Homo sapiens: one gene and its partners. The protein of the gene in region 6 purifies or fractionates together with the protein of the main gene of each other region. This does not show direct contact. Each region holds a gene or a part of one and is shown on either strand. Other genes may lie near its edges.

Evidence for each region.
Region 1: the proteins of MYLK2 (region 6) and AHSG purify together in Homo sapiens (affinity purification with mass spectrometry; one large-scale study listed by BioGRID and IntAct). This does not show direct contact.
Region 2: the proteins of MYLK2 (region 6) and WDR43 purify together in Homo sapiens (affinity purification with mass spectrometry; one large-scale study listed by BioGRID and IntAct). This does not show direct contact.
Region 3: the proteins of MYLK2 (region 6) and SAFB purify together in Homo sapiens (affinity purification with mass spectrometry; one large-scale study listed by BioGRID and IntAct). This does not show direct contact.
Region 4: the proteins of MYLK2 (region 6) and UQCRH purify together in Homo sapiens (affinity purification with mass spectrometry; one large-scale study listed by BioGRID and IntAct). This does not show direct contact.
Region 5: the proteins of MYLK2 (region 6) and HTR7 purify together in Homo sapiens (tandem affinity purification; one large-scale study listed by IntAct). This does not show direct contact.
Region 7: the proteins of MYLK2 (region 6) and NAT10 purify together in Homo sapiens (affinity purification with mass spectrometry; one large-scale study listed by BioGRID and IntAct). This does not show direct contact.

The regions. Positions count from the first base shown.
Region 1 is NC_000003.12:186,618,667-186,622,325, forward strand, and holds the end of AHSG (alpha-2-HS-glycoprotein isoform 2 preproprotein), read left to right. Parts: intron 1-1,190; coding exon 1,191-1,274; intron 1,275-1,919; coding exon 1,920-2,264; 3' UTR 2,265-2,652; downstream 2,653-3,659. UniProt on the Homo sapiens protein: Promotes endocytosis, possesses opsonic properties and influences the mineral phase of bone. Shows affinity for calcium and barium ions.
Region 2 is NC_000002.12:28,939,273-28,943,551, reverse strand, and holds part of WDR43 (WD repeat-containing protein 43), read right to left. Parts: intron 2,092-4,279; coding exon 1,978-2,091; intron 1,241-1,977; coding exon 1,171-1,240; intron 1-1,170. UniProt on the Homo sapiens protein: Ribosome biogenesis factor that coordinates hyperactive transcription and ribogenesis. Part of the small subunit (SSU) processome, first precursor of the small eukaryotic ribosomal subunit.
Region 3 is NC_000019.10:5,629,051-5,633,329, forward strand, and holds part of SAFB (scaffold attachment factor B1), read left to right. Parts: intron 1-4,279. UniProt on the Homo sapiens protein: Binds to scaffold/matrix attachment region (S/MAR) DNA and forms a molecular assembly point to allow the formation of a 'transcriptosomal' complex (consisting of SR proteins and RNA polymerase II) coupling transcription and RNA processing.
Region 4 is NC_000001.11:46,309,663-46,313,941, reverse strand, and holds part of UQCRH (cytochrome b-c1 complex subunit 6, mitochondrial isoform 1 precursor), read right to left. Parts: intron 4,046-4,279; exon of another isoform or gene 3,961-4,045; coding exon of another isoform or gene 3,898-3,960; intron 3,788-3,897; coding exon 3,626-3,787; intron 1-3,625. UniProt on the Homo sapiens protein: Component of the ubiquinol-cytochrome c oxidoreductase, a multisubunit transmembrane complex that is part of the mitochondrial electron transport chain which drives oxidative phosphorylation.
Region 5 is NC_000010.11:90,742,654-90,746,932, forward strand, and holds part of HTR7 (5-hydroxytryptamine receptor 7), read right to left. Parts: intron 1,038-4,279; coding exon 940-1,037; intron 1-939. UniProt on the Homo sapiens protein: G-protein coupled receptor for 5-hydroxytryptamine (serotonin), a biogenic hormone that functions as a neurotransmitter, a hormone and a mitogen.
Region 6 is NC_000020.11:31,832,038-31,835,731, reverse strand, and holds the end of MYLK2 (myosin light chain kinase 2, skeletal/cardiac muscle), read right to left. Parts: coding exon 3,596-3,694; intron 2,016-3,595; coding exon 1,935-2,015; 3' UTR 1,048-1,934; downstream 1-1,047. UniProt on the Homo sapiens protein: Implicated in the level of global muscle contraction and cardiac function. Phosphorylates a specific serine in the N-terminus of a myosin light chain.
Region 7 is NC_000011.10:34,129,213-34,133,491, reverse strand, and holds part of NAT10 (RNA cytidine acetyltransferase), read right to left. Parts: intron 2,680-4,279; coding exon 2,555-2,679; intron 2,112-2,554; coding exon 1,961-2,111; intron 1,368-1,960; coding exon 1,271-1,367; intron 467-1,270; coding exon 350-466; intron 1-349. UniProt on the Homo sapiens protein: RNA cytidine acetyltransferase that catalyzes the formation of N(4)-acetylcytidine (ac4C) modification on mRNAs, 18S rRNA and tRNAs.

The DNA of each region.
Region 1 (3,659 bases), on a different chromosome or scaffold from region 6:
CACTCGGACAGAGCTGTTTGTGGAACAGAACATCCTTGGATAGTTTGTATCTTGGGGCTGCAGACAGAGAATAACAGTGCAAATCCCCTCTCCCTGTGGATCACGGCAAGCCTTCTTTTAGGGTGTCACCTCATCCCTTTAAGAGCTGTCATCAAATCATCTCACCCACTGGAAGCACATGAAGTTAGGAGAAAGAGAGAGGCTATTTGCTAATGAAGCCAAGTCACGCCCACCCACTGGGAATGTGAAGTGCACATTTTCTAGACATATAACTCTGATACAAAAGCTTTCAAGTCCTTGAGCCAATAATGTACACTTCTAGGATTTTAGTCTAAAGAAGTCATCAGTGGCCAGGCATGATGGCTCATGCCTGTAATTCCAGCACTTTGGGAGGCCAAGACGGGTGGATCGGGAGGTCAGGAGATCGAGACCATCCTGGCTAACATGGTGAAACCCCGTCTCTACTAAAAATACAAAAAAATTAGCCAGGCTTGGTGGTGAGCGCCTGTAGTCCCAGCTACTCGGGAGGCTGAGGCAGGAGAATGGTGTGAACCCAGGAGGCAGATGTTGCAGTAAACTAAGATCGTGCCACTGCACTCCAGCCTGGGCAACAGAACGAGACTCTGTCTCAAGAAAAAAAGAAAAAGAAAAAGAATTCATCAGTGACATTTGACAGAATATATCTATAAAAATGATTTATTATGGATATAAAGAGACCAAAAAAGAGAGATCTGTATGTCCAACAGGAAGGTGTCATTGAATAATCCATGCACATCAGTAAATAGAAAATTGTGCAGACACTAAAAATTGTGTTTTCAAGGAATAATGAATGATATGAGAAAATGCTATTATGGCAAGTGAAAACACACAGGATACAACATCGTATAGTCACAATGATCTCAATTTTTAAATCATATTTAATAGTATTTTAAAATAAGAAAGAAATGCATCAATGTTAACAGTCCTTCTTTCTAGGCCACCACCAGAAAGGGATTATGGGTAATCTCTCTCACTCTCAAAGTATTTCTGTATTTCCATGTTATATATAGAATCATATACCTCCCACAAGCAGAAACTATAACTTTAAGAAAAATGGTTTTTCAAACTAATTTAAGGTTGGCGCGTCAATGAAATTGGGGGGGATCCATTTTTGAAATTAGTTAAAATAAATCCTCTTTCTCTGTGGGCAGCAATATGGCTTTTGTAAGGCAACACTCAGTGAGAAGCTTGGTGGGGCAGAGGTTGCAGTGACCTGCATGGTGTTCCAAACACAGGTAACAGCTCCGTGAATATTCTTGCCTACACCTTCAGAATACAATGACCCCTTCACATTTATGCAGTGCAGTAGTGATGACAGGACATTTGCTCTCCTGTGCTTCTGAATCTCACAGTATGAAATAACACTGGGGTATGCGGAATCATCAACAAATGGAAGGATATTTTAGCTATGCCTTTCCCTCCCACGAACTAGTGACTACAGGGAAGAACCATCTTACTGTGTAGTTGACAAAGCCACCTTTTTATTTGTGGGAGGTGGGAGTGGTTTTCTGAGTTGCAGAGACCAGGTGGCCAGATCTACCTGTTAGCTCCCAGTGGCTGCAGCTTCAGATGACAAAGAGGGTGGCACTGCTGGGCAAGGGTGAGCCATAGGTGGGGTGCTTTTACTCATTGGACATATGCGTGTAAGTCCACCATCACAAAGACAATCCTAGTGAGGCCGGGGCCAACATAGGCCAGTCACCCCTCCTTGTAACCTTGATGACAATCCCTTGTACTTGGGTAGGTCCTTTCTTGCTAGACTCTTTGCAAATAAAAATGTATAATGTGAGGAAATTGGGTGCCAGTGCCACCTGGGCCTGTGGGTTGTCTTGCCTGGGAGGAGGAAGCAAACTAACTGAAGGAAATGGTCCTTTTTCCAGCCCGTGAGCTCACAGCCCCAACCAGAAGGTGCCAATGAAGCAGTCCCCACACCCGTGGTGGACCCAGATGCACCTCCGTCCCCTCCACTTGGCGCACCTGGACTCCCTCCAGCTGGCTCACCCCCAGACTCCCATGTGTTACTGGCAGCTCCTCCAGGACACCAGTTGCACCGGGCGCACTACGACCTGCGCCACACCTTCATGGGTGTGGTCTCATTGGGGTCACCCTCAGGAGAAGTGTCGCACCCCCGGAAAACACGCACAGTGGTGCAGCCTAGTGTTGGTGCTGCTGCTGGGCCAGTGGTTCCTCCATGTCCGGGGAGGATCAGACACTTCAAGGTCTAGGCTAGACATGGCAGAGATGAGGAGGTTTGGCACAGAAAACATAGCCACCATTTTGTCCAAGCCTGGGCATGGGTGGGGGGCCTTGTCTGCTGGCCACGCAAGTGTCACATGCGATCTACATTAATATCAAGTCTTGACTCCCTACTTCCCGTCATTCCTCACAGGACAGAAGCAGAGTGGGTGGTGGTTATGTTTGACAGAAGGCATTAGGTTGACAACTTGTCATGATTTTGACGGTAAGCCACCATGATTGTGTTCTCTGCCTCTGGTTGACCTTACAAAAACCATTGGAACTGTGACTTTGAAAGGTGCTCTTGCTAAGCTTATATGTGCCTGTTAATGAAAGTGCCTGAAAGACCTTCCTTAATAAAGAAGGTTCTAAGCTGAATGTGGTCATGCTTATTGCGACTTCATCCCAGCTCCCCTCACATGCATAGCCTTTTACCCCAACAAACACAGTGTCCCTAATCAAAATCAAAGTGAAAAGAGAACCAAAAGAGAACAAAAACCTGCTGTATTGCCAGATACAGGAAAAAGTGAGACTAGGATCTTTCCACAACCCATAAGATGTGACCATTTCTTTTTTTTTTTTTTTCTGAGACGGAGTCTTACTCTGTCACCCAGGCTGGAGCGCAGTGGCATGATCTTGGCTCACTGCAAGCTCCACCTCCCAAATTCAAATGATTCCCCTGCCTCAGCCCCCTGAGTAGCTGGGACTACAGGTGCGTGCCACCACACCCAGCTAATTTTTTTTATTTTAGTGGAGACAGGGTTTCACCATGTTGGCCAGGATGGTCTTGATCTCCTCAACTCATGATCCACCCACCTCGGCCTCCCAAAGTGCTGGGATTACAGGCGTGAGCCACCGCACCTGGCCAAGATATGACCATTTCTTTATGAGAAAATAATTCTTCTCATTTTATAAGAGAGAGAAAATATTGCTAAAGGTGGGCCAAGCTCCTGAACTTTGTACAGAATAAACTATCCATTGATTTTCTCCAGTACCGAGGTAAGGAGGGATTGGTAATTAAAACAAGATCCTCACTTTATATCTGTTGTTAATTATGTTTAAGATATACGTTGAGTGTACTGTATACACTTCATTTTATAACACAAGATTGGTCTTCCTAGCCAATCTATTTTAAGGACCCAAGTTAAAGCTGTGACTTGTAGTATCATTAGATAAAGGATGCCTGGACAGGTGAATCCCGTGGACATTTGTAGACACCGTCCAAGTGCTCAGATAGCATATGTGAATAAACCCTCCCCATTTTAGCATGGTCCCTGGGCAATTTCAATTTTTGTCCATCAGCATTAAGTTTTTCCGATCTACCTCAGTGATGGGCCCTTTCAGATGGAATTTTAGAGGGCAGGACTGACACCCAGTTGAGTGAC
Region 2 (4,279 bases), on a different chromosome or scaffold from region 6:
CTCAGGGTATTTGAGGATGATCTAAAATGTTCCCTTTTTGACATTTCCAGGTTTTGTTATCAAGATTATACTTGGCTCATAAAATGACTAAATTGCCAGTACATGACAAAAAGGACAGCCCAGTGTTGTGGGTCATGCTTCTATTCCCAGCACTTTGGGAAGCTGACGCGAGAAGACCGTTTTTGAGGCCACGGTGTACAAGATCAGCTTGGGCAACAAAGAGACCTCATCTCTACCTTTAAAAAAAGAAAATTGGCCAGGCATGGTGGCTCAACAGTCCCAGCTACTCTAGAGGCTGAAGCAGGATGATCGCTTGAGTGTAAGAGTTTGAGGCTGCAGTGAGCTATGATTGACCTCGAGCCACTGCACTCCAGCCTGAGCAACAGAGAGAGTCTGTGCAAAAAAGAAAAGAAAAGATTTGTTCTTTGAAGGCCTGATCAAATAACCTTCAAAATATCTGGGCATATCTTGTGAGAAGTTTTATAAAGTCAATTTTAGAGCTACTGGCTTTTTCAAACTTTTTATTTCTTTTAAAGTCAATTTTGGTCATTAATGTTTCCTTAAAAATTAACTATACCACCTAGACTTTTAAATGTATTTACACTAAGTTTGTTCATATAATGTTCTTCTATTTAAATATTTTCCATACCTGGCCAGGCATGGTGGCTCACACCTGTAATCCAAGCACATTGGGATCACTTGAGCCCAGGAGTTTGAGACCATCCTGGGCAACATAGTGAAACTCTGTCTTTACAAAAAAATACCAAAGTTGGCCGGGCATGGTGGTGCACGCCTGTAGTCCCAGCTACTCAGGAGGCTGAGACAGGAAGATTGCATTGAGCCCAGGAGGTTGAGGCTGCAGCAAGCTGTGATCACAGCACTGCACTACAACCTAGGCAACAGACTGAGACTGTCTTAAAAAAAAAAAAAAAGAAAAGAAAAAAAAAATCTTCCATAACTAATGCCCTTTTTTGTCACTGTATTATACTTGTGCCTTTTCTTTTCTTATCTGATGAATTACAGATTTTTGCCACGGACTTGCCTATTTTAATTAGAGAAGGCTTGCCAAAGGAAGATCTTATGTTGACGTTTTCAAAAAGATAACAGAACTCAGTCACTGAAAACTGAATGTTATAATTCTAGACTCCATCCCATTCCCCCAGTCTTTACCTTCTTCATACACCAACTTTGCCTTCTGTCCAGGGGAAGTTGCTCCCTTTGTCTTCTCTGATGCTGTTACCTGGAAGAAGATAAAGTACTGTTCTGAAGTAGAGTGTAAACATATCCCAAGTATCACGACCACCAGCATACCCAACCTTCCCCACTGCTTGCTGCTAACTCACCCTCCACCACCATAATGGAGGACCTTCATACAATACAGAGCAAAAAAGTCCTTCAAATACAAGAGGGAAAGAATTACTCTGTAAAGCTGAAAAACTCTGAGGTGATTAGAATATCTTTCTGTGCCAAAATTTTAACTGTATAAATATCCTATAACTTACTAACTGTATAACAACTGAAACACAATGGTGAGAAAAAGATTTGAGTAAAAGTTGAAACAGACACAACTAAACTTTCTTACTGTCAAACTGATAAGCTTTCCAAGTTAAAGACTAGATCCTGATTTACCAATTTCTTACTGAAACAGGGAGCTCTCAGCCAGGCGTGGTGGGTCACGCCTGTAATTCCAGCACTTTGGGAGGTCAAGGTGGTAGGATCCCTTGAGCCTAGGAGTTCAAAACCAGCCTAGGCAATGCCATCTCTACGAAAATTTAAAAATTAGCCAGGCATGGTGGTGCATCCGTGTAGTCCCAGCTACTTGGGAGGCACTTGAGCGAGGCTGCAGTGAGCTATGATCATGCTACCGCAGTGCAGCCTGAGCGACAGAGCAAGACCCTGTCTCAAAATGATCCTTATTCCTCTCTCCATTCCTACCATGTCCAAAAGTTTTAGCCCAGAACAATATGATTTACTCACTTGTGTAATTAGAAGAATAAGCTTTCCATGAAGGTGTGAAAGTTTCTGAAAAGTTTTGACTCTGCTTTCCATTAACTGGTAGAGTGTCCCCAGCTGGGGTACCAGGTCAGGCAACTAGAGAAAAAAATGATCATTTGGCACTATTAACGTATTAGAGATGACGAACACGCAAATCATGCTCAGCTATGCCTCAGTATTTAGCCACTGCACCACACACATCTGCTTACAAGTACTCCCAGTGGCAGTGGCTACCTGCAACATAGCCTAACAACATCACGAATTTTCACAGAAGACCCTCAATGTCCTAGGAGGAAAAAATAATAGGCTTATAAAAAAAATGATATAAGGGCAAGAGAGTGAAACTGCAAGGTGGCACTTTTCTGTATTGATCAAACTATTTCAGATAAGGCCAATATCCCATATAAAGTAGACAGGAAATTAAAAATGCCTCTACCACGTATCTCCAGGCTAAAGAGGCTTTCCTCTGAATCTTATCCTCTGATGCTAGCATATTATCTACCCTTACTGTAAGGCCCCAAAGAGGCAGAGAAGCCTTTTCCCAGCTCCCAGAGACCAGTAGAACAAAGTACAAAGTTGACCTTTTGCATTTTAAATATACTTCCTGTTAATGAGTCCTCTGAAACATATTTAAAAAATGAAAGTAGGACATTCTCTTTTTTGCTCCCATGTTGCTCTCATCAGAGTCTTTTGTATTGAGAATATAGCTGTTATATTTGGAACACAACACGACTGATAAAGGTCTGGCTCCTCCAGGTTCACTGAGGAATAAAACAATGGTAATTTGCCTTTCTCATAAAATCTTAAAGTCCCCTTGATCATTTTTAACAATATGAAAGGAAACCATGATGGCCATAATTTTTCTATCCTAGATCAACTATAAAAAGCAACTGGAAAAATTTAAATGCCTCTTTTTAAAGGAAGCCATTTGGAAGTCCAGAACAAGCCTCTTCCTGTCCCACTGCCTTCAAATACCTGCCTCTGGTTAATTTTCCTCCCATCTCTGGGCTCTAAGAACAACGCTGGCAGCTGGGCGCGGTGGCTCATGCCTGTAATCCCAGCACTTTGGGAGGCTGAGGCGGGCAGATCACCTGAGGTCAGGGGTTCAAGACCAGCCTGACCAACATGGAGAAACCCCATCTCTACTAAAAACACAAAAATTAGCCAGGCATGGTGGCATGTGCCTGTAATCCCAGCTACTCGGGAGGCTGAGGAAGGAGAATCATTTGAACTCATAAGGCGGAGGTTGCGGTGAGCCAAGATCGTGCCATTGCACTCCAGCCTAGGCAACAAGAGCAAAACTCCGTCTCAAGAAAAAAAAAAAGAAAAAGAACAACGCTGGCTTCCCCACCTCACCCCCTACCCCCGTGATATTCTGATATTCTTTTATCTGTCCCTGTAGCACTACAGAAAAACGGACTCCATTCTTTTTTTTTTTTTTTTTTGAGACGGAGTCTCGCTCTGTCGCCCAGGCTGGAGTGCAGTGCCATGAACTATGCTCACTGCAACCTCTGCCCCCCCGGGTTCACGCCATTCTCCTGCCTCCCTCAGCCTCCCGAGTAGCTGGGACTACAGGCACCTGCCATCACGCTCGGCTAATTTTTTGTATTTTTAGTAGAGACGGGGTTTCACCGTGTTAGAAAGGATGGTCTTGATCTCCTGAACTCATGATCCACCCGCCTCAGCCTCCCAAAGTGCAGGGATTACAGGTGTGAGCCACCGTGCCCAGACTCCACTCCTTACCTCTGATTAGCCTTTACCTGCACTCCTATTTCTAATACTTTAGTAAAAAAGTGTTTCATTCAAATGTTAACTTTAAACAGCAGACAGACACAAAAATTAGTAAAGCAAGGTTTAAGGTCATTGCATTCCAATTTATCACCTCCCTTTTGTGTCCCTGTTCAGACTATGAGCTCCAAGAAGATGGGGACCAGAGTGTTTGGTACATTGCTGAATCCCCATGCCTGGCATAGCCCTTGGCTTACAGAAGGCACTTAAAAATATCAGCAAAGGAAGGAAGAAATGAAGGAAAAGAGCGAGGAAAACCATGGTTTCCTTGATAACTGCTACGGGCTGAGGGGCCCTCCCTATACCATTCTTTCGTCTGTTCTGCCACGACCTTGAATGTTACACCACAACTACTCTGGTTATACCTCAGGAGTTGATTCCAGAAAAGATTTCACTACAAGATCTCCCGGGTCTCTCCTCACTTCTAAGCAAGTAACTGAGGCCACATTAGTGTTGCCCCATTTGCCATCCAGATTCCTAAGATCCGATGTCTGCT
Region 3 (4,279 bases), on a different chromosome or scaffold from region 6:
CCCCACAAAACGTTTAGATTTCAGTTGTGAGCCACTGCGCCCGGCAGGTTTTAAAATACGTGCATGGGAGTAAAAAGCAGAAGTTGTTCACAGTCGGGACAGCCCACTACTAAAAGTTAGGCATACTTCTCCAGACTGTGTGTGTATGTACAATGTTTAAAAGTAAACTTAGGCCTGGGTTACAGAGCAAGACCCTGTGTCTAGAAAAACAAAAAGTTAAATAAAAGTCAATGAGCTGGGCATGGTGGCACACACCTGTAGTCCCAGCTACTAGGGAGGCCAAGGTAGGAGGATTGCTTAAGCCCAAGAGGTCAAGGCTGCGGTGAGCCATGAGTGTGCTTCTACACTCCAGCTTGGGCACAGAGTGAGAGGGGGAAAAAAGTAAATATATAGGTATGTGCACACACCTGTATGCATATTTTTTTCATTAAAAAAACCCGTGATCTTGCTATACAAAATCTCACTGTTTTTTAACAGGCTAATAATCTTCTGTATGAATAAATACACAATTTAGCCCATCAGTCTTTTTATTACTAGACGTTTGGAGATTTTTATTTCCAATTATCACTCGGTACTTCCAACATTCAGTGTTTGCACGAACCAGAGATAAATACCTTTGTGTGGTCAAAGTAATATAATTTTTGATAACTTAGTGAAAGGAGAATTCTAGACTCCAAGGATATGGCCCTTTATTTTCACATAGCTAGTTTACAAATAGCTGTCCCGGCCAAGTTCAGTGGCTCACGCCTGTAATCCTAGCACTTTGGGAGGCTGAGGTGGGCGGATCAAAAGATCAGCCTGGCCAACATGGCAAAACCCCACGTCTACTAAAAATACAGAAATTTGCCAGGTGTGGTGGTGGGCGCCTGTAATCCAAGCTACTCAGGTGGCTAAGGCAAGAAGATAGCTTGAACCTGGGAGACTGAGGTTGCATTGAGCCAAGATAGTGCCACTGCACTCCAGCCTTGGCGACAGAGTGAGGCTGTCTCAAAAACAAAAACAAAAACAAAAAGCTGTCCCAGGTTGTACCCTACCAACAATGGGTGACGGTGCCTATTTCACTAAACTCAACATCAAACTTACCTTGTTTGCCTGTTACCTTGTTGCCTGTTATATAGAAGAAAAGTATTTCATTGTATTTATCTGCATTTTTCTGCAGGTGAGATTTTCGTTTGCATTTCTTCACAGATTATACTCTTCTGATAATTGGACATTTGTGTCGTCTGAATGGCCTTTTCATGCCCTTTGCCGATTTCTGTGCTGGGTTGTTTGTCTTATTGAGTTATAAAGACTCATATAAAATGTTTCTATTGTTTTAATCTGTCATTCAATTTAATCTGATTCGACTTGTGGTATTTTGATCACTAGGCTTCTAGATTTTATGTTACGCTTTAAAAGGACTTCTTTGCTTTTAAATTATTAAAAATATGACTGTAAGGCCAGGTGCGGTGGCACACGTCCGTAATCCCACGATGCAGGTGGATCACCTGAGGTCAGGAGTTCAACACCAGCCTGGCCAACATGGTGAAACCCTGTCTCTACTAAAAATACAAAAATTATCTGGGTGTGGTGGCAAGCGCCTGTAATCCTAGCTACTTGAGAGGCTGAGGCAGGAAAATCGCTTGAACCCGGGAAGCAGAGGTTGCAGTGAGCCGAGATCACGCCACTGCACTCCAGCCTGGGCGACGAGTGAAGCTTCGTCTCAAAAAAAAAAAAAACTATATGTATAACTCTGTTATATATAGAAAGAATAATATTTATGGTTTTATTTTTACATTTTACATTTGGAGGTTTAATTAATTTAGAATGTATTTTGCATGTGGTGTGAGGTAGGTAGGGATGAAAACATGAAACATTTAGGCTGGGCGTGGTGGCTCATGCCTGTAATCCCAGCACTTTGGGAGGCTGAGGCGGGCAGATCACCTGAGGTCAGGAGTTCGAGACCAGCCTGGCCAACATGGTGAAACCCCGTCTACTAAAAATACAAAAATTAGCTGGGCATGGTGGCGGATGCCTGTAATCCCAGCTACTCGGGAGACTGAGGCAGGAGAATCACTTGAGCCTGGGAGGCGGAGGTTGCAGTGAGCTGAGATCATGCTGCTGCACTCCAGCCTGGGCAACAGTGCAAGACTGTGTCTCAAAAAAAAAGAAAAGAAACATTTGTCATCAGAAAGATCACTTCTGCCCCTCCCAGTGCGTCTCCCCTCCCAGCCCCTGCAAAAATAAAAGTCGCTGTTGTGATTACTTCACCAGATATTAGTTTTACCCATTCTAGAACTTCATGTAAAATGGAGCCATGCAATACTAGCTCTTTTGTGTCTCATTTGTTGTTTTGTTTTGCTTCTTGTAATCAGTTTTATTCTAGAAATTTACAGTACATTTTGATATCTGATAGGGCAGGTCGGTAAGTTTTCTTGAATTATTTTCAACTACTTTATCAGTGGGTTTTATCAAGATTTTAACTGAAAATAGAGGGACTGCTGTAATGTGTGAATTCAAAATGCTTTAAAATTCCAGAAAGCATATCTCATGTAATCTCAGTTCTCCTCCTATTGCTTGGACTTGGAGAAAATGACATCCCTTTTAAACAGCACTTGGCCAAAACAGAATTGTCACTTTAACATTTTTTTTAAAAACTGCTTATACAGCAAAAGTCACATTCCACATGACGTGACTCTCACCATCTTAGCAGACTCTCAAAATAATTATCAGGGGCTGTGCGAGATGGCTCTCGTCTGTAAGCCCAACAGTTTGGGACACCGACGCGGAAGGATGACTTGAGCCCAGGAGTTGGAGAGCAGCCTGGGTGACATAGTGAGACCCCATCTCTCCAAAAAATTAGAAAAATTAGTCAGATGTGATGGCGTGCATCTGTAGTCCCAGCTACTCAGGAGACTGAGGTGGGAGGATCACGTGAGTCCAGGAATTTGAGGTTGCAGTGAACCATGATTGGGCTGTGATTGCTCTCCAACCTGGTAACAGGGCAAGACTCTGTCTCGAAAAAATAAAATAATTACCAGGAAACTAAATTTATTTGTAGTGTCATCACAAAGTACAAATTAATAGGATGTTTTATGGTGTTTGAGAATGTTTTGTAACTGGAGATGCAAAGTTGGCCTGTTTGCTTGGTTAAGTATTACCCAATCCTTTGCTGCTGGCTTGTTTTGTTCAGTTTTTGTTCATTTTGGCAATTTCATACTTAAGTTGCAAGAATAATGCAAGGAATTCCCATATACCCTTTACCCAGAGTCCCCAAATATTGCCATCTGACTACATTTGCCTTGTCCTTTTCTCTCCTTGTATGTATGTTTTTACTAGACCGCATGGTAAGTTGCAAGGCGCATATGCCCCTTTGCCCTACGTACTGCAGTAAAGTAAGGATATTACCTAACTGTAGATGTCCAGATCAGGAAATTAACATTGATACAATACTGCCACCTCGTCTTAGTCCTCATTTAGATTCAGTAGTTTGTTCCAATAATATTCTCTATAACTCAGACAAAAAATGTCCAGAGTCATGCATTGCATCAGGTTGTCATGTTTCCTTAGTTTTCTTTAATCTTGAACACTTACACTTATTTTGTAGTTTATTTTTCTATTTGAATTGTTTTGGGTTCTCCCCGCCCCATAATAAGGATCAAGTTATACGCTTGTCAGAAATACACCAGACATGTTGTATTCCTGTTTTTTGTTTTGTTTTGGTTTGAAACCGGGTCTTGCCCTGTTACCCAGGCCAGAGTGCAATGGTGCAATTGTAGGTCACTGCAACCCTGAATTGCTGTGCTCAAGCGATCCTCCCACCTTGGCCTCCCAAAGAGTTGGGATTACAGACATGAGCCACCACGCCCAGCCTATATTGTCATCAGAGTATACTATCCAGAGGCACATGCTGTCAGTTTGAGCCATTATTGGCCATGTTAGCTGACTTCAAATGCTATTGGCCAGGTTTCTCCACTGGAAAGTTACTGTCTTCCTTTTCACAGTTACATTTGTGGGGAAGATACTCTGAGACTTTGTAAATATCCTGCTCATCGTCCATTAGTTTTAGCAACCACCAGTTCCTGTCTATTCATTTATTCTGGTAGTTGCCAAATGGTGATTTTTTAATTTTGTTATTGTTTGTTTATTACTTGGTTTACTGACATAAGGAATAGCTTGCCCTTTGCCCTCATTTATCTGTGTGAACTTAGATTATTTTATTCCATAGGTTGAAAGCCTTTATGCTTATTTACTACAATGTGCAAAACGTTCCATTGGGAACCCTGTCAGACAGGCTCCC
Region 4 (4,279 bases), on a different chromosome or scaffold from region 6:
CTCAATACTTCTGGGTATATACCTAGAAGTGAAATTGCTAGATCATATAGTACATAATTCTATGTTTAATTTTTGAGAAAAGAACTTGTTTTTTTTTTTTTGAGACAGGGTCTCAGTCTGTCACCCAGGCTGGAGTGCAGTGGCGTGATCATGGCTCACTGAAGCCTTGACTTCCCCAGGCTCAGGTGATCCTCCCACCTCAGCCTCCCAAGTAGCTAGGACTACAGGTGTGAGCCAGCTTGCCTGGTTATCTATATCTATCTATCTATCTATCTATCTATCTATCTATCTATCTATCTGTCTATATTTTTTTGAGATGAAGTCTCGCTCTGTCGCCCAGGCTGGAGTGCAGTGGCACAATCTCAGCTCACTGCAAGCTCCGCCTCCCGGGTTCACGCCATTCTCCAGCCTCAGCCTCCCAAGTAGCTGGGACTACAGGCGCCCGCCACCACGCCCGGCTAATTTTTTTGTATTTTTAGTAGAGATGGGGTTTCACCATATTGGCCAGGCTGGTCTCGATCTCCTGACCTCATGATCCACCCGCCTCCGCCTCCCAAAGGGCTGGGATTACAGGCGTGAGCCACCGCGCCCGGCTTTTATATATATATTTTTTGTAAAGACAGGGTTTTACCATGTTGCCCAGGCTGGTCTCAAATTCCTGGGCTCAGGTGATCTGCCTGCCTTGACCTCGCAAAGTTCTGCGATTACAAGCATGAGCCACAGTGCCCAGCCTAGCTGATGGACACTTATGTTGTTTCCACTTTTTGGGTAGTATAAATAATGCTTCTATGAACATTTGTGTACAAGTTTTTATGTGAACATATGTTTTCATTTCTCTTGGGTATATATCTTCGAGTGTAATTGCTGTGTCATATATTAACTGTATATTTAGCCTTTTGAGGAACTGCCAGATGTTTTCCACAGTGGCTGTACCAATTTACACTTTTACTGACAGCGTATGAGGTTTCCAACTTTTCCACATTGTCGTCAACACTCGTTATCTTCTTTATTATAGCCATCCTAGTGGGCAGTTGGTATAAAGTGTTATCTCATGGTAGTATCCCTGGTGGCTAATGATGTTGAACATCTTTTCATACGTTTACTGGCCATCCAATTAGTTTTAATAGAAGCAACCACATCAAACTTTGCTTATGTATAATTTATGTAAAATACCTTACTGTGTTATATGTAAGAGTCAAGCAGAAGTTTATTTTTATTTTTTTAATTTTGATTTTTTAAAAGTAGAGACAGGGTTCCCCTATCTTGCCCAGGCTGGTCTTAAACTCCTGGGGTCAAGGGGTCCTCCTGCCTTGGTCTTCCAAAAGTGCTAGGATCATAAGCGTCAGCCACTATGCCCTGCCTGAGTTTACTTTTAAAAAACAACCCCTTGAGGCCAGGCATGGTATCTCACACCTGTAATCCCAACACTCTGGGAAGCTGAGATGAGTGGCATGTGTGAACCCAGGAGTTCTAGACCAGCCTGGGCAACACGGCAAAATCCCATCTCTACAAAAAATACAAAAATTACCCAGGTATGGGCCAGGTGCGGTGGCTCACGCCTGTAATCTCAGCACTTTGGAAGGCTGAGGCAGGTGGATCACTGGAGGTCAGGAGTTCAAGACCAGCCTGGCCAACATGGTGAAACCCCGTCTCTACTAAAAATACAAACAAACAAAAAATTAGCTGGGTGTGGTGGCGTGCACCTTTAATCCCAGTTACTTGGGAGGCTGAAGCAGGAAAATCGCTTGAACCCAGGAGGTGGAGGTTGCAGTGAGCCAAGATTGCGCCACTGCACTCCAGCCTGGGTGACAGAGTGCAACTCAGTCTCAAATTAAAAAAAAAAAAAATTACCAAGGCATGGTGGCATGTGCCTATAGTCCTGGCTACTCAGAGGCTAAGGCAGAAGGATTGTTTGAACCAGGAGGTAGAGGCTGTAGTGTGCCATAATTGTGCCACTGCACTCCAGCCTGGGTGACAGAGCAAGCAAGACCTTATCTCAAAAAAAAAAAAAAAGGCTGGGTGCAGTGGTTCACACCTGTAATCCCAGAACTTTGGAAGGCTGAGGCAGGTGGATCACAGGGGTCAGGAGACTGAGACCATCTTGGCTAACACAGTGAAACCCCGTCTCTACTAAAAATACAAAAAAACAAAAACAAACAAACAAAAAAAAACAAAAAAACCATTAGCCGGGAATGGTGGCGGGCGCCTGCGGTCCCAGCTACTCGGGAGGCAGAGGCAAGAGAATGGCGTGAAGCCGGGAGGTGGAGCTTGCAGTGAGCCGAGATCGCGCCACTGCACTCCAGCCTGGGCGACAGACCAAGACTCCGTCTCAAAAAAAAAAGCAACCTTTTGGACCAACTACTATATATTAGACACATTTGAGGATACAAATTATTTTTTTTTTGGCGCAACCTTGGCTCACTGCAAGCTCCGCCTCCTGGGTTGACGCCATTCTCCTGCCTCAGGCTCCCGAGTAGCTGGGGGCTACAGGCGCCCGCCACCACGCCCGGCTAATTTTTTGTACTTTAGTAGGGACGGGTTTCGCTGTGTTAGCCAAGATGGTCTCAATCTCCTGACCTCGTGATCCGCCCGCCTCCGCCTCCGCCTCCGCCTCCGCCTCCCAAAGTGCTGGGATTACAGGCGTGAGCCACCGCGCCCGGCCAATACAAATTATTTTTAAAGAACAGTCTGTTATTGAAAAGTACAAAATCCAGCTTCCCCACTGTTTAGTGGTGCATGTTGGGATGTTTATGTTTTTTTCTCTGAGCCTCAGTTTCTATCTGTGAAATGGGATAATGATACCTATCTCCAGTGGAAGTAGTAAGGATTAGGCAAGATTATTATTATTATTATTTTTTTTTTTTTTTGAGATGGAGTCTCGCTCTGTCGCCCAGGCCAGACTGCGGACTGCAGTGGCGCAATCTCGGCTCACTGCAAGCTCCGCTTCCCCGGGTTCACGCCATTCTCCTGCCTCAGCCTCCCGAGTAGCTGGGACTACAGGCGCCCGCCACCGCGCCCAGCTAATTTTTTGTATTTTTAGTAGAGACGGGGTTTCACCTTGTTAGCCAGGATGGTCTCGATCTCCTGACCTCATGATCCACCCGCCTCGGCCTCCCAAAGTGCTGGGATTACAGGCATGAGCCACCGCGCCCTAGGCAAGATTATTTATAGGCCAGGCACAATGGCTCATGCCTATAATCCCAGCACTTCAGAGGGCCGAGATGGAAGGAAGGATTGCTTGAGCCCAGGAGTTTGAGACCAGCCTGGGCAACATAACAAGGCCCCGTCACTAGAAAAAATTAAAAAATAAAAAATTAGCCTCTCATGGTGGCATGCACTTGTAGTCCCAGCTACTTGGGAGGCCAAGGCAGGATCACTTAGGCCCAGGAGTTCAAGGTTGGCACTGAGCTACGATCATGCCGCTGTACTTCAGCCTGGACAACATAGTGAGACCCTCTCAATAAAATAGAATAGGTTATTTACATAAAATGCTCAGCGCACCATATGTCACATATATTGGGCCCAGAGTAACTGATGGGCCTTTCCCTAGCATGGAAAGATTGTTGGCACCAAGTCTTCCCTGACCATTGCAACCTTTCCCCTTCCTGACTTCCCACTGACTTACGCAATGGTCCCTCGCATGCAAGAAGTCAAAGAGCTCCTCCGTGCAATCCTCTTCTGTATGTGATCGAGAGGATACACGCTCATCACAGAGCTCTAGCCGCTCCCGGGCCTTTACACATTTCTCCAACTGCTCGCATTGCTCTCTCACTGTTGTTAGGGGATCCTGATGTAGAAACAGAAAAAAAACAAAATGGGCATTTTTAGCAGAGACCCACCAAACACATATGCTTTGATTAACACAACCACCAAACCAAGGTGCTGCCTCTGAATTACCGTGCAGAAGGCCAGCTGGCAGAGCCACACTGCCGCCAGAAATGGCAGAATGCGGTCTCCCATTCAATTCTGATGCTAAGTAGTAGGGAAAAGTTTCACATTCCTGCCTTCCAAGGTTGCCAGTATGCACTGAAAGCCTCAGTCCTATCTGAAAAACAAGGTGGTAAAGGAAACCTGGCCAAACTTGAAGTAGATCTATAGGAGGCCTTACTTGTTAACACAGCATTTTGGAATATGACACGTCTGAAACTTCAAATCCCCTTGTCTGAGAACCAGGCCTATGCACCCCAGCTGCCCAACTAGAAAGGCAATGCTAACATAGAGAAGGACTATCTAACAAAGGTTCCTTCAGAGTTCTTTTTTTTTTTTTTTTTAAGACGGA
Region 5 (4,279 bases), on a different chromosome or scaffold from region 6:
GGATTATGAGTATCCTTCAAGGGAAAGAAAAAGTGTTGTGACTCTTTTCATAAATTTCATAACTTCCACAAGTTGCCAAGGCTTTAATATATTTGCAAATCAGCCCCAAATAACCCATTTAGAAATTCACCTTTTTAATACAGCTATAGCAAAAAATGACTTTGCTCTCAAAAATCCTTGCAAAATACTATTGCACCTGCCCCACTTGAAAAGAATAATGACTAAATAATGATTACCAATGAGACGTGCTCTCTCCCTCAAACCTAGGAAGGTGTGTTATTGTAAGGTATGTGTGTAGGGACCAAGAAACTTCACTTCTCTCCCTCGTTCCTAGATGCTCAGAAGTGGCATTAGTGATAGAGAAGTGTCAGCCAAGGGCTGAGAAAAAGTCCCTTTCTCCTGGTGTAAAGCCACTCCCCTGACTCTGCACCTCCACAGGCCTCAACTTACCACACTACATCATGTGCCTAAGAGCTAGGTCTATGAGGACCCAGAGACTGGGACTGTGCCCCTAATCTCCACCTACCCACCCCATCTAAAGCACCCCCTACCCTGCCATTTGGCTGTCTTGCCTGCAGTCCTGCTCTTCCTTCTTTGAGGTCCCCCTCTCAGCCCAGCCCTTCAGATGGGTGATCAATAGATGGATTTTGCTGGAGACATGGTTTCTAGCTTTTCCCCTCAGCCTCACACAATAACACCTGAGGACAAGTACTGCACTTCAGCCCAGACTCAGCACTCTAGGCTCCACGTATCTGAAGAGGGGACTGGCAACCATCTGTGCTCCACAGACACATTCCTAGCCCAGGGCCACTGTCTCTTCCCAGCACAGGAGAGACAGTGCTTTCTCCAGCTCAGCACGGCTCTGCTCACATAGTTCATGTTCTGAATTCCTCCAGACCACAGCACTATCTCCAAAGTCTCCCTTTCCTTGCTACCCACCTGCTAACCAATTGTGATGGTCTGGAGATTGTAGCACCCACACAGATACCGGTGGCCTCTTTTCTGGTCTCAACAGCACCCTCCTTGTGCAGGCCCTCCTGCAATTTATGGCAATTCAAAGCAAATCCATAAGTAAATCAAATTTTAAAAGAAAAAAAGAATCCTTGATTATATTTCATTATCATATTTGGTTTTATATTACCAATCTGTGAATACTTGTGAAAAGGATTAAAATTGATAGCAGTAAATTAAAATTACCAGTGCAAAAGTATTCACAGCTTTTCCTCCATCTATTCACTTCATTACCCCAGGGAAAATTTTCGAGTGCCTGATGAACTCCTGAGGTTCTGGTTATGCTGATCAAGAAAATGGGGAGAAATGGGTAAATATTTGGGAGTAGGAACAGTCTTACAGGTTTGTACAGGAAAGAAAGAAACTATTATGTAGGAGAATACGTAGAGCCAAGAAGGCAGAGCAAGGCGAAAAGGTAAGAGAGACTAGAAGCCCAGAAGCTAGATGGGAGGAAAAGAGCTGGAGAAAGCCCTGAGTCTGGAGGAGTCCAGAATCTGCACGGTGGCCACAAGATGAGTGAGAGCTAGAGAGAGGCAGGGGGAGCAAAGGGTTCTGATTACAAGTCTCCTACTAGCCACCACCACCTCTGCAGCCACCCCAGCACACTAGATTAAAAGCTTCCAGAGACTTCAACTGTCCCTTACTCATCTTTCTACCCTACCATGCCTGGTTCCATGCTTTGTACATAGCAGACCCTCAAATGTTTCTGGGAAAAACAAGCCAATGAAGAGACTCCTTACATCCATTTTCTACATTTGGAGTTATCCACACAGTGCTACTGCATCAGTCTTGACCATTTTGATGACTCCATTCCCCTACTTGCAGATTCACTGATCCTACTTGCAGATTCACTGATGGCTTACTACTACAGAGTGTCCCACATTTAGCATTAAGGATTAGGTACTTCTTTGTTGGGGGGTGGGCGGGGGGTTGCTGGCCTGTATACTGTAAAATCCTTAAGAGCAGCCCTGGCCTCTACCCAGTAGATGCCAGTAGTGTGCCACCCAGACTTGTGACAACCAAAAATCCCTCCAGAAATGGCCAAATGGCTACAGAGAGTTGGGATGGGAGGCAAAATTACTCCTGATTAAGAACCATTTGTCAATATTAAAAGTCCAAATTCTTGGAGCTAGCATAGAAGAGCCTTTATAATTTCATCTCAATCTACTTTTCTGCTTTGATCTCTAACAGTTCCTGCACCCAAATGCTTAGCTTCAGCCAGATGGTCCTTTGTATAAGCTCCCACATTGGTGCCTTTACAAAAAAAGTCCTCTTCACCTAGAATACCATTTCTGCTCTCCTTTCACTATAAATGCTTTGACCAACTTCATAGACATGCTTGAGTTCATATCCTTCAGGAAGTCTTCTCTGATTAGGGTTAGTGTAAGCTCTGAGTTATTTTCCTTTCCTTTGAATCCCATAGTTTTTCCTGTCTCCACCTTTCCTTATTACAGAAAGGTTGCCATGTGCATATGTCTTAGCCTAGCCAGGCTGCTATAACAAAATCCCATAAATTGGTAGCTTATAAACAACAGAAATTTATTTCTTATAGTTTGAGAGGCTGAGAAATCCAAGATTAAGCCACCAATAGATTCCATGTCTGGTGAGGGCTCGCTGTCTGCTTCATAGATGGTAACTTCTAGCTGCTTCCTTACATGGTAGAAGGTATGAACAAGCTCCCTCAGGCCTCTTTTATAAGGGCAATAATCCCATTCATGAGGGCCCTGCCCCCATGACCTAATTACCTCCTAAAGAATCCACATTTTCATAGTATTGCATTGGGAATTTGGTTTCAAAATATGAATTTTGCAGGAGACACAAACATTCAGGCCATAGCAACATATGTCTGTTTGTGTAAGGTATATCCAACAAAATTATGTGCATAAGGACATGAAAGATATCATCTGTTTTCTGTATCTTCCTCAATGCATGGCAGCCATATTAGAAATTTCCTAAAGTTGATGGATATTTTTAGGCTAATCGTCCTTAATGAAGTAGATATTCTGTAATTATAAATTCAAACTGAGAGAAATGCAAAGAAGATACAGCAGACTATGGCCTGTTGGCCAAATACAACTGGCAGCCCCTTTTTGTAAATAAAGTTTTATTGGTACACGGGCCTATCTGTTTACTTATGTCAGTGACAAATTACTCATCAGTGAGATGAGTAGTTTCAATAGAGACCATATGGCTAGCAAAGCTTAAAATATTTACCACTTGGCCCTTCACAGTTAAAGTTTGCTGACCTCTGTCTTAAGCTTACAGGAAAACAACACCCAAGCCTCCAGACTAGCTAAAGATACAAAGGCAAATATCTTTAGACTTTATGTTAGCTGATTTATTTTTATAAAAGGCACAGTAGCATAGAAGTTAAAAGCACTTTTGAACACAGATGTCCTGGGCTCAAATCCAGCTCTATCACTCTCTATATGACTGTGGGGGAAATCATTTGACTTCTCCACGCCCTTGTTTTGTTATTTTCAGAATGGAAATGAAGAAAACTAACCTATCATAAACTTTTGAGGATTAATTGATCAAATTCACATAAAGTGCTCAGCAAAGTGTCTGAGAGTGAATCCTCAGCAAACGCATGTTATTATTTTAAACTGGAAAACCTTTTTGTGCTACATTTTAAAGATTACCATTTTATGATCTATCTGAATTATCTATGAATCATTAACTAAAATAATCAATAAAATGATTCTCAAGTTTTTTGACCCTATGGATGCATGCAAATATAGCAGTGTTTCCTTGCTCATGACTTTATCTGTTCTTTCCTACTTTATACACTGGCTGCTTAACTGGATCCCCTGCCACCCATCTTTCCCTTGTCTGCCCTCCTCACTATTGCCAGAGAGACCTTCCCATGTTACTCCTGAGAACTAAAACCAACACGCTTTCCTTTTCCTGTGCTAAAAAATGCTGCAGCCAGGCAAAATAACCTAGCTATTTGTTCTAGGAAATAGTCACTTTCAGAAGACTATATGCCAACAAAAATAGCCTACTTATCAAGACTAGTTTGCTCATTAACACTCACTTCACAGCCCTCATCTAGCTGTACTTACCAGTCTAAAGCTATTATGTCATAAACTCTGCCTAATCCTCACCAGTTCCCTACCTTCAAATCACCCAGCCCAAGCCCCAAAACCCTATCAATATCCTTGCCTTATTTCCTTCATCTGAGAAACTACTAAGACTGTCTAGGAGTGGATACCACTCGTAGTGCAGTAAGTCTAATAAACTTTACTTACTTAGAGTAACAATTCAT
Region 6 (3,694 bases):
CCTGCTGGAACCTCTCTGTTCCCACAGGCCAGTCCCACTTCTCAGTCGTCCTCACAGCCAGAAAGGCTGCACTGTATCAGGGCTCAGCTCTCTTGCCCTCTGGGCTGCCCCCAGATGGAGCCTCCCCTGCCCCTCACTGCTGGCTTGTGGTGAGGTGGCCGTGGCCACTGGGAAAAATCAGAGAACAGTCCTCTCCCCTGAGGCCCTCATTGTAGACCCAGCAAAGGCATCGCAGGCCTGCCAGACCTGGCCTCCACCTGGAGACCGGACTCTCTGCTTACACCCTGTCCTGGTGAGAGGCAGAGGGAACGCATGGGCACATCCTTGCTCTGGGAGACAGAAAAGCTCCTTTCAAGCCCCAGTCCCTGACTTGTTGAGTGGCATTCAAGTTCCTTCTCTCCTCTGAGCCTCAGTTTCTTCATATGTGGAGTAAGGATAAGAACATTATCGTTCCCTGGGCCGAGCACAGCCCTAAGTGCCTTACCTCAGTCTGACTGATGCTGCAGCCATGGCCCCACCCTATGAGGTAGATCCTAGCGCTGCCCACTCTCTCTGGCTCAGTTTCTCCCTCTGTAAAACAGGAATAATAATACCTGCCTCATGAGAATCACCTGAAGCCGGGAGGCGGAGGTTGCGTGCAGTGAGCATAGATCACACCACTGTACTCCAGCCTGGACGACAGAGTGAGACTCCATCATAAATCAATCAATCAACCAATCAATCCTGCCTCGTAACTTTGCTGTGAGGAGTAAATGAGTTAACACAGCACAGGCGCTTTAAGTAAAGCTGGGCACGCAGTAATCACACACCCGGTGTAGGCTGTTGCTGCGACCTCCCTCTCACAGGTGAGGATACTGAGGCACAACGTGCAGAAGCCACCTGCCCACATCATGTGCTGGGCAGACTGGCACCTGAGCCTGCATGAACCACCAAACTGTGAGCTGACGGATATTGCTAAAGTGTCCGGTACACAGTAGGTGCTCAGTGAACTGTGGTCATCAGCGACCTCACACCAGTGCAGGCACACACAGAGGGAAGGAGGCCACATCCAACCTGTACATTTATTTACAAGGCACAAGCTGAGAGCAGACTGGAGGCTGCCCCATGGCCTTCCTAATTCTCCTGGGCCTGCTGACCCCATCATCTGAGGCCATGGGTGACCCCCAAGATGGGGGCCCCGAGTGGTTGGGTTGGGCCGGCTTGGCCCTGAGGCAAGCTCGGGGGTGGTCTCCTGTGTCCCTTGGCTTCTCCCCTCCCCCTCCACCAGGCCTGGGCTGGGCGCCCTCTCTCTCACACAGAGTTCCTGTGTGTTGGTGGTCGCAAGGAAGGTGGGTGGGGGCCAGCCTGGGCCAGATGGTGTGGGCTCGGCCTTATCTGCTGGAGTGGGGAGGTGGCGGGGGCATGGAGGTCCTCTCTCACAAAGCCTGCTCTGTCTTCCCTGGCAGCTGGGCCTTAGGAATCAGCGTTGCAGCCTTTCTGCCCCACCAGGAGCCTCCCATCCACAACCACAGAAGCCCTACATGCTGAGACCCCCCAGCCATGGCACTCCAGCTAGGAGGAGGCCCAGGCTAAGGACTCTCCCAGTGGGGCAAAGCAGGGGTCACCACGGCGGCGGCAGTTCAAAGACGAGGAGCTGGGGAGGGAACCGGGAGCGGCTTCAACGGGGGCCTGGAGTCTGGGGTGTGGCCGACAGGCTGGAGCCCTGTCTGGGGAGGTGCTAGCAGGATGGATCCAGGCCACACTCCGAGGCGGCTCACATCGGGGAAGCGGTCACTGCATGGGGGCGTGGGGAGCCCCGAGCCTCCCAGCCTGGCACAGCCTTGTCCTAACGAGGCTGCCCTGGGGATCTGGCTGCCTTTTCTGGCCTTCTGGGCTGTGTGGCTTCAGCCCCGGCCACTGTGTGGCTGCGTCCAGGCTTCAGCTGCGCCCAGGGCTCAGACCCCCAGAGCCATCAGTGCCCCCGAGCTGCTGATCTTCTTGAAGCGGTTGGCAGCGCTGACAGCAATGAAGTTTTTCTAGAGGGCAGAAGAGAGGGAGTCCCAGTCAACACCAGGGCAGGGGGGCAGCTGCAGGGTGTCTGAGCAGCCTGTAAGTCCCCTTCAGTCCAGGAGGGTCACAGGCTAGAGAAGGTGCAGTGCCCAAAATGGCCACGGGAGGCGCCATGACACTGTATTGTCCAGGAGTCCCCTCACTCAACGGATAGGTCAGCCAGACCTGAACCAAGGACCGCTCTGCTCCAAACACTCCCATGGCTCCAGTTTTGCTCCAAGTAAAAGATAAACCCCTTGCCATGGCCGATGAGTCCCTCCAACTCCTGTCCCCCTCTTCCTCTCTAACTTCATTCCTTACCTCCTTGCTCACTCCACTCCATCCATACTGGCCTCCTACCTGTTCCTCAAACTCTCCAACCACACCTCTGCCTCAGGGCCTTTGCACTGGCTACTCCCTCTGCCCGGAATACTCTTCTCCCAGTATTGGCACGGCTCACCCCTCCCCACCTTCAGGTCTTTGTTCACATGCTTCTCAGTGAGCCCTTCCTGACCCCCCCTATTTAGAAGTGCAGGCTGGGCACAGTGGCTCACACCTGTAATCCCAACACTTCGAGAGGCCAAGGCGGGAGGATTGCTTGCCTGAGCAACATGGCGAGACCTCATCTCCACAAAAATATTTTTAAAATATTAACTGGATGTGGTGGCATATGTCTGTGGTCCCAGCTATTCAGGAGGCCAAAGGAGAGGATCACTTGAGCCCAGAAGGTCAAGACTACAGTGAGCCATGATAGCGCCACTGCACTCCAGCTGGGGAGGCAGAGTGAGACCCTGTCTCTAAAAAAAATAAAAATAAAAGTGCAACCTCTCCCCGGCAGAAGGCCCTTATTTTTTTTCTAAAGTCTTCTTTAACCCTGCCTATTTCCACAGGGCTCTAGAAAATGCCCCACCTCAGCCAGGCACAGTGGCTCACGCCTGTAATCCCAGCACTTTGGGAGGCGGAGGCAGGTGGATCACGAGGTCAGGAGTTCAAGACCAGCCTGGCCAACATGGTGAAACCCCGTCTCCACTAAAAATACAAAAATTAGCCAGGTGTGATGGTGGGTGCCTGTAATCCCAGCTACTTGGAAGGCTGAGGCAGGAGAATTGCTTGAACCTGGGAGGCAGAGGTTGCAGTGGGCCGAGATCACGCCATTGTACCCCAGCCTGGGTGACAGAGCAAGACTGTATTGAAAGAAAGAAAAAAAGATAGAAAATGCCCCATCTCTCACCAAAAGTAACTCCACAAAGACTGAGATCTTTGTCTCTTTTGTCCACTCCTATATCCCAATGCCTAGAAGTAGTAGATGCTCAAGAAATATTTGAAAAATGAAGGAGGGAAGCCAGAGCCCCAGATGGGTGGGGCTGGGTGGAAGGCCGGGTAGAGGTCTCCACTCTAGGACAGGAGCCAGCCCAGGGCAAAAACAGAAAAGTCAACCCTGTCTTCCGGACAGGGCCCAGCCTGGTCAACAGAACCTGCCAAGGCAGGGACGGTGGAGGCTGGGATCTGGCACCAGGAGCTCTTCCCACTAGCAAGCCCTCCCTCCCCACCCTGAATCCAGCGGTACCTTCCAGCGCCTCTTCATGAGGTATTTCTTAAGCAAGATCTGGGACTTAAGGCGTCGGTTACAGCGTTTGGCTTTCTCCGCCAGGTTGTTGAGCCAGGG
Region 7 (4,279 bases), on a different chromosome or scaffold from region 6:
AAAAATTTGTTCCCCAATCTGTAGCCTCTAATTCAAAATGCACCATGTATTGCTTTTGTAATAAAGGGAGAAAACAAACAAGTCTGTTTGTGGAAGAAGCTGTGAGTCAAAATAAGAGAGCGGTCGGTTCTGGCTTTTCCCCGTCCGTCAACAGTGGAGCTTTGGGTGTCTAGTGGCGCTAACCTCTTCCAGTGCACCCTAGTCACCTGTCTCAGCAGACCCAGCCCCTTGGTTCCAGACCAGGACTCCACAGTTTCAAAACTCCCACAATGCAGTTATTAAGCCACTAATTCCTGATGCCTCAGTGGTTCCCCAAATCACTGCCACAAGGACGCCTCTGCTCCTATACCTGGATAACAGCAAGCACTTCTGGAAGGGCATTCTGGGTGGGGGGCACGGGAGGCAGAAGGCAGAAGAGATGGTGAGCAGGTGCATCGGAGAGCATCTGGAGATCATTGGGAGAGTTCTGTGGAAGCCAAACACGGGTCAGTGAGAAGCACTCTTCCTCTTGCCCTTTACGCAAAAGGTTCGATTCAGAACCACAGGATGACTGCAGTATGGCCTTCTCCAAAGCCAAGTGAGGAGCAGAAGTCCAGCAAAGCACCTTTCTAGTATTTTGGCAAGCCTGAGACTCTTCATAACAGGTTAAGTGGAACTTAGCCTCAAATGCCTACTGTCCTCTCACCCCGAGCACTGAGGCTGGACAGAAGAAGAGAATTTATTTAGCACTACTTATTTCACAGCTAGGAAGTGAACTTTTTACAGATAAGAGGCTGCTATTTCAGGAAAAACTGTCACCACTTCTAACACCAACTCTTCAAGCCTTCCATTAAAAGCTGTTCATAAAAATACTATCTAGACATTCAAAAAGTATCCTTTTTAACCAACCCTTTTGTTTTTAAGAGTCTCAGATATTCTAAACCCTCAAATTCACTGTTCCATAAAAGTAGCCCAGAGCTATAAAGCTGGTCTCAGGTCAAACTGCACCACCGGGCCACAACTGCAATGTCACCTCATCCTATCAGTTTAGTAGGCAGGCAAGAAATGAAAGCACTCCTTTAAAAATGGACACAGCTTTCCACCCTGTCCCGTTACTGCATGGAGCTACATGCTCTATACCTACACACAGCAAGATCAGTGGAACTCATCAATGTCCCAATGGAACAGTCACCTAAGCCATTGGGTAATAAAATATGCAAATCAAGTAAAAGGGGACTGCCAAATGCTGAAGCTCCCTGCTACCATTCACACAAGGGCTAGCTGCAGTTACCTTGTAGTGAGAAGCCACGTAGAGGGCCATAAGCCGTTGGAGGAAAACTTCAGAGGCCTTGTGGTAGCAAAAGAGGGTATCTCTATTAACATAGTACCTGGGTCTGGAGTTAAGAAACCAAAACAAAACAAATAGCCGAAGACAGGTCATACTACTCTCTGGAGGCAGAACAAATTTCCGTAGCTGGGAACAGGAGCTCAGTGTCCTAAGCAGAAACACATAAAAGAAGGAAGAAGAGGGCCAGGCGCGTTGGCTCACACCGGTAATCCCAGCACTTTGGGAGGCTGAGGCAGGCAGATCACAAGGTCAGGAGTTTGAGACCAGCCTGACCAACATGGTGAAACCCTGTCTCTACTAAAAATACAAAAATTAGCCAGACGTGGTGGCTGGCACCTGTAATCCCAGCTACTCAAGAGGCTGAGGCAGGAGAATCACTTGAACCCGGGAGGCAGAGGTTGCAGTGAGCTGAGATTGTGCCACTGCACTCTAGCCTGGTGACAGAGCGAGACTCCATCTCAAAAAAAAAAAAAAGAAAGAAAAAAAAAAAAGGAAGAGAAAAAGGAAATTGAAAATGTTCAACTTTCCCCTTTCTCTAGAGCAGCATCCTATGAAACAAAGGACTCAAGTCCTTTGAATTCTTTCACCGCCCCTCTCCTTTTCACAGGGCCAGTGAAACCCAGAGGAGGATACAGTTCACAAGCTTCAGGCAAGGGGCAGCCTGAGACTATCCGAGTGATGTTGAGGCAATCCAGGCACAGCAAGTCATTCAGCCACTTCTCCACTGCATCCCCAGGGGCGTATCGGATTGACTCCTGGAGGGAAACCTCATACAGTGTCCGCGCTGCTCCCCACAATCACACACACAAAAGAAGAAACAATGATTAAATATGTATTGTCTAAAAAAGCAAGGAAAAATGTTTCACTTTATATTTGTCCCATGGTGGCCAGAGACGTGTGGTAAGAATTTAAACTGGGTGGTTTAAAATTGTTTTTGGTGGATATTCAACTTGCCACGATACCAACCCCAAAGGGATCTCAATGCAACCATGCCCTGAGACAAGGACACACAAGGGCCCCACCATCAGAAGGCCCTAGTCTGGCTCCCATCTGGTCACTGGACTGCTGTTCCTCCGAAAAAAGCTACTTCTCCTCTTGGGGACTCAACCTCTCAGCCTGATGGTGGGAAGGTTTGGTGCTTCCCATGATGTCACAGGGGAAGCGAGGATCAGTAAGACTGAAGGGCCTTGCTGTGAACCGCGGGACCCGGGTCAGGTTCTGGGGTACCTGATGCCAATCTGGCTGTCGTCGTGGTCTTATTCTCAGCAGTGGTGCTGACCTGGCTCTGGGCGCTCTGTTGACGGAGCTGCTGAATTAGCTTGAGGGACAGTGACCGGCCAGTGCCCTCATAGCTAGAAACAAAGGCAAAAGGAATCAGGCACAAGGTCCCAAATCCACTGTCTAGGAGGGGACAGAGAGCTGCTTTCCTCCACCTGCTGAAACACCAGACCCCTGCTTCCCCCAGGACAGCCTTGCTCATCTCTGAACTTCCAGCATAGCAGGCACCTGTCCAAAGGAGGCAGGGTGGCACGGTGGCTGAGCTTGGGGCCACCCAGGCCTGGGCTCACGTCCTGGCTCATCTACTTAGTATCTTTGGGCAAGGAGCTGAATCTCTTTTCGCCTCATCTTCAAGAGGGGATTATTCTATACACCTCACAGGACTGTGATGTGAACTTAAAAAATAAGGACTGGAAAAAGGATGTAAGTAAAGCCTTTAGCATAAAGGCTTTAGGCAGTTTTAGTGAAGCTGGAACAAAGTTAAATGGTCAACTAACGGAGCTGCTTTTAGAAGTACGGTGCATAAGGAAATGAACTGAGAACATTTCCAGTTTGGAAAATAAAACAAATCCACCACCTCAGTAATTCTTTTCATTGCTATGCCCACTTATAAGGTGACATAAAATAGCTAAAAAATGTTGAGAAAAAAATTAAATCACCTATAATCTGATAACTCAATCAGCTTTCATTGTTGAGTTTTCTTCTCCTTGTCTTTAGTCACAGGCATATGTCACCACAGGGTACACACAGCACTTTTCATTACATCATTTCATAGTACTCATTATTATATTCAAAGACTGTAAAATACTTCCTCTTACTCAAATAATGATAAAAGCTAGATGTTTTATGCCCACTCTCCACACCACATAACAAAGCTCTCCCAAAAGTATCCTATTTATTTATTTAAGAAAAAAGAGTAAGCACAAGCAACAAAACTTCAAAACTTTTGTCGTTAAAAGACATTATTATAAAGAAAGTGGCCGGGCATGGTGGCTCATACCTATAATCCCAGCACTTTGGGAGGCCGAGGCGGGTAGATCACCTGAGGTCAGGAGTTTGAGACCAGCCTGACAAACATGGTGAAACCCCGTCTCCACTAAAAATACAAAAGTTAGCCAGGCATGGTGGTACACACCTGTAATCCCAGCTACTCAAGAGGCTGAGGCAGGAGAAATGGGTTGAACCTGGGAGGTGAAGGTTGCAGTGAGCCAAGATTACACCACTGCACTCCAGCCTTGGCGACAGAGTCAGAGTCTGTCTCAAAAAAAAAAAAAAAAAAAAAAAAAAGAAGAAGAAGAAGAAAGTGAAAAAACCCATAGAATGTGAGAAAATTTTTGTAAATCATATCTGAAAAGGGACCTGGTATCAAGAATATATAAAGAACCCTTACAAATCATTAATAAAAAAGACAACCCAATTGGAGAGATGAACAGAGGATACGAATACACATTTCTCCAAAGAACATACGTGAGTGGCCAATACGCACATGTAAAGATGCTAATATCATTAGTCACCAGGAAATGCAAATGAGAATTATAACGAGAGGTCACTTCACACCTATTAGAATGGTTATAACCACAAAGATACATAATAAGTGTGTGAGAGGATACAGAAAAGTCAGAACCCTCATACTGCTGGTGGGAACGTAGAATGTGCAATTGCTTTGGAAGAGTC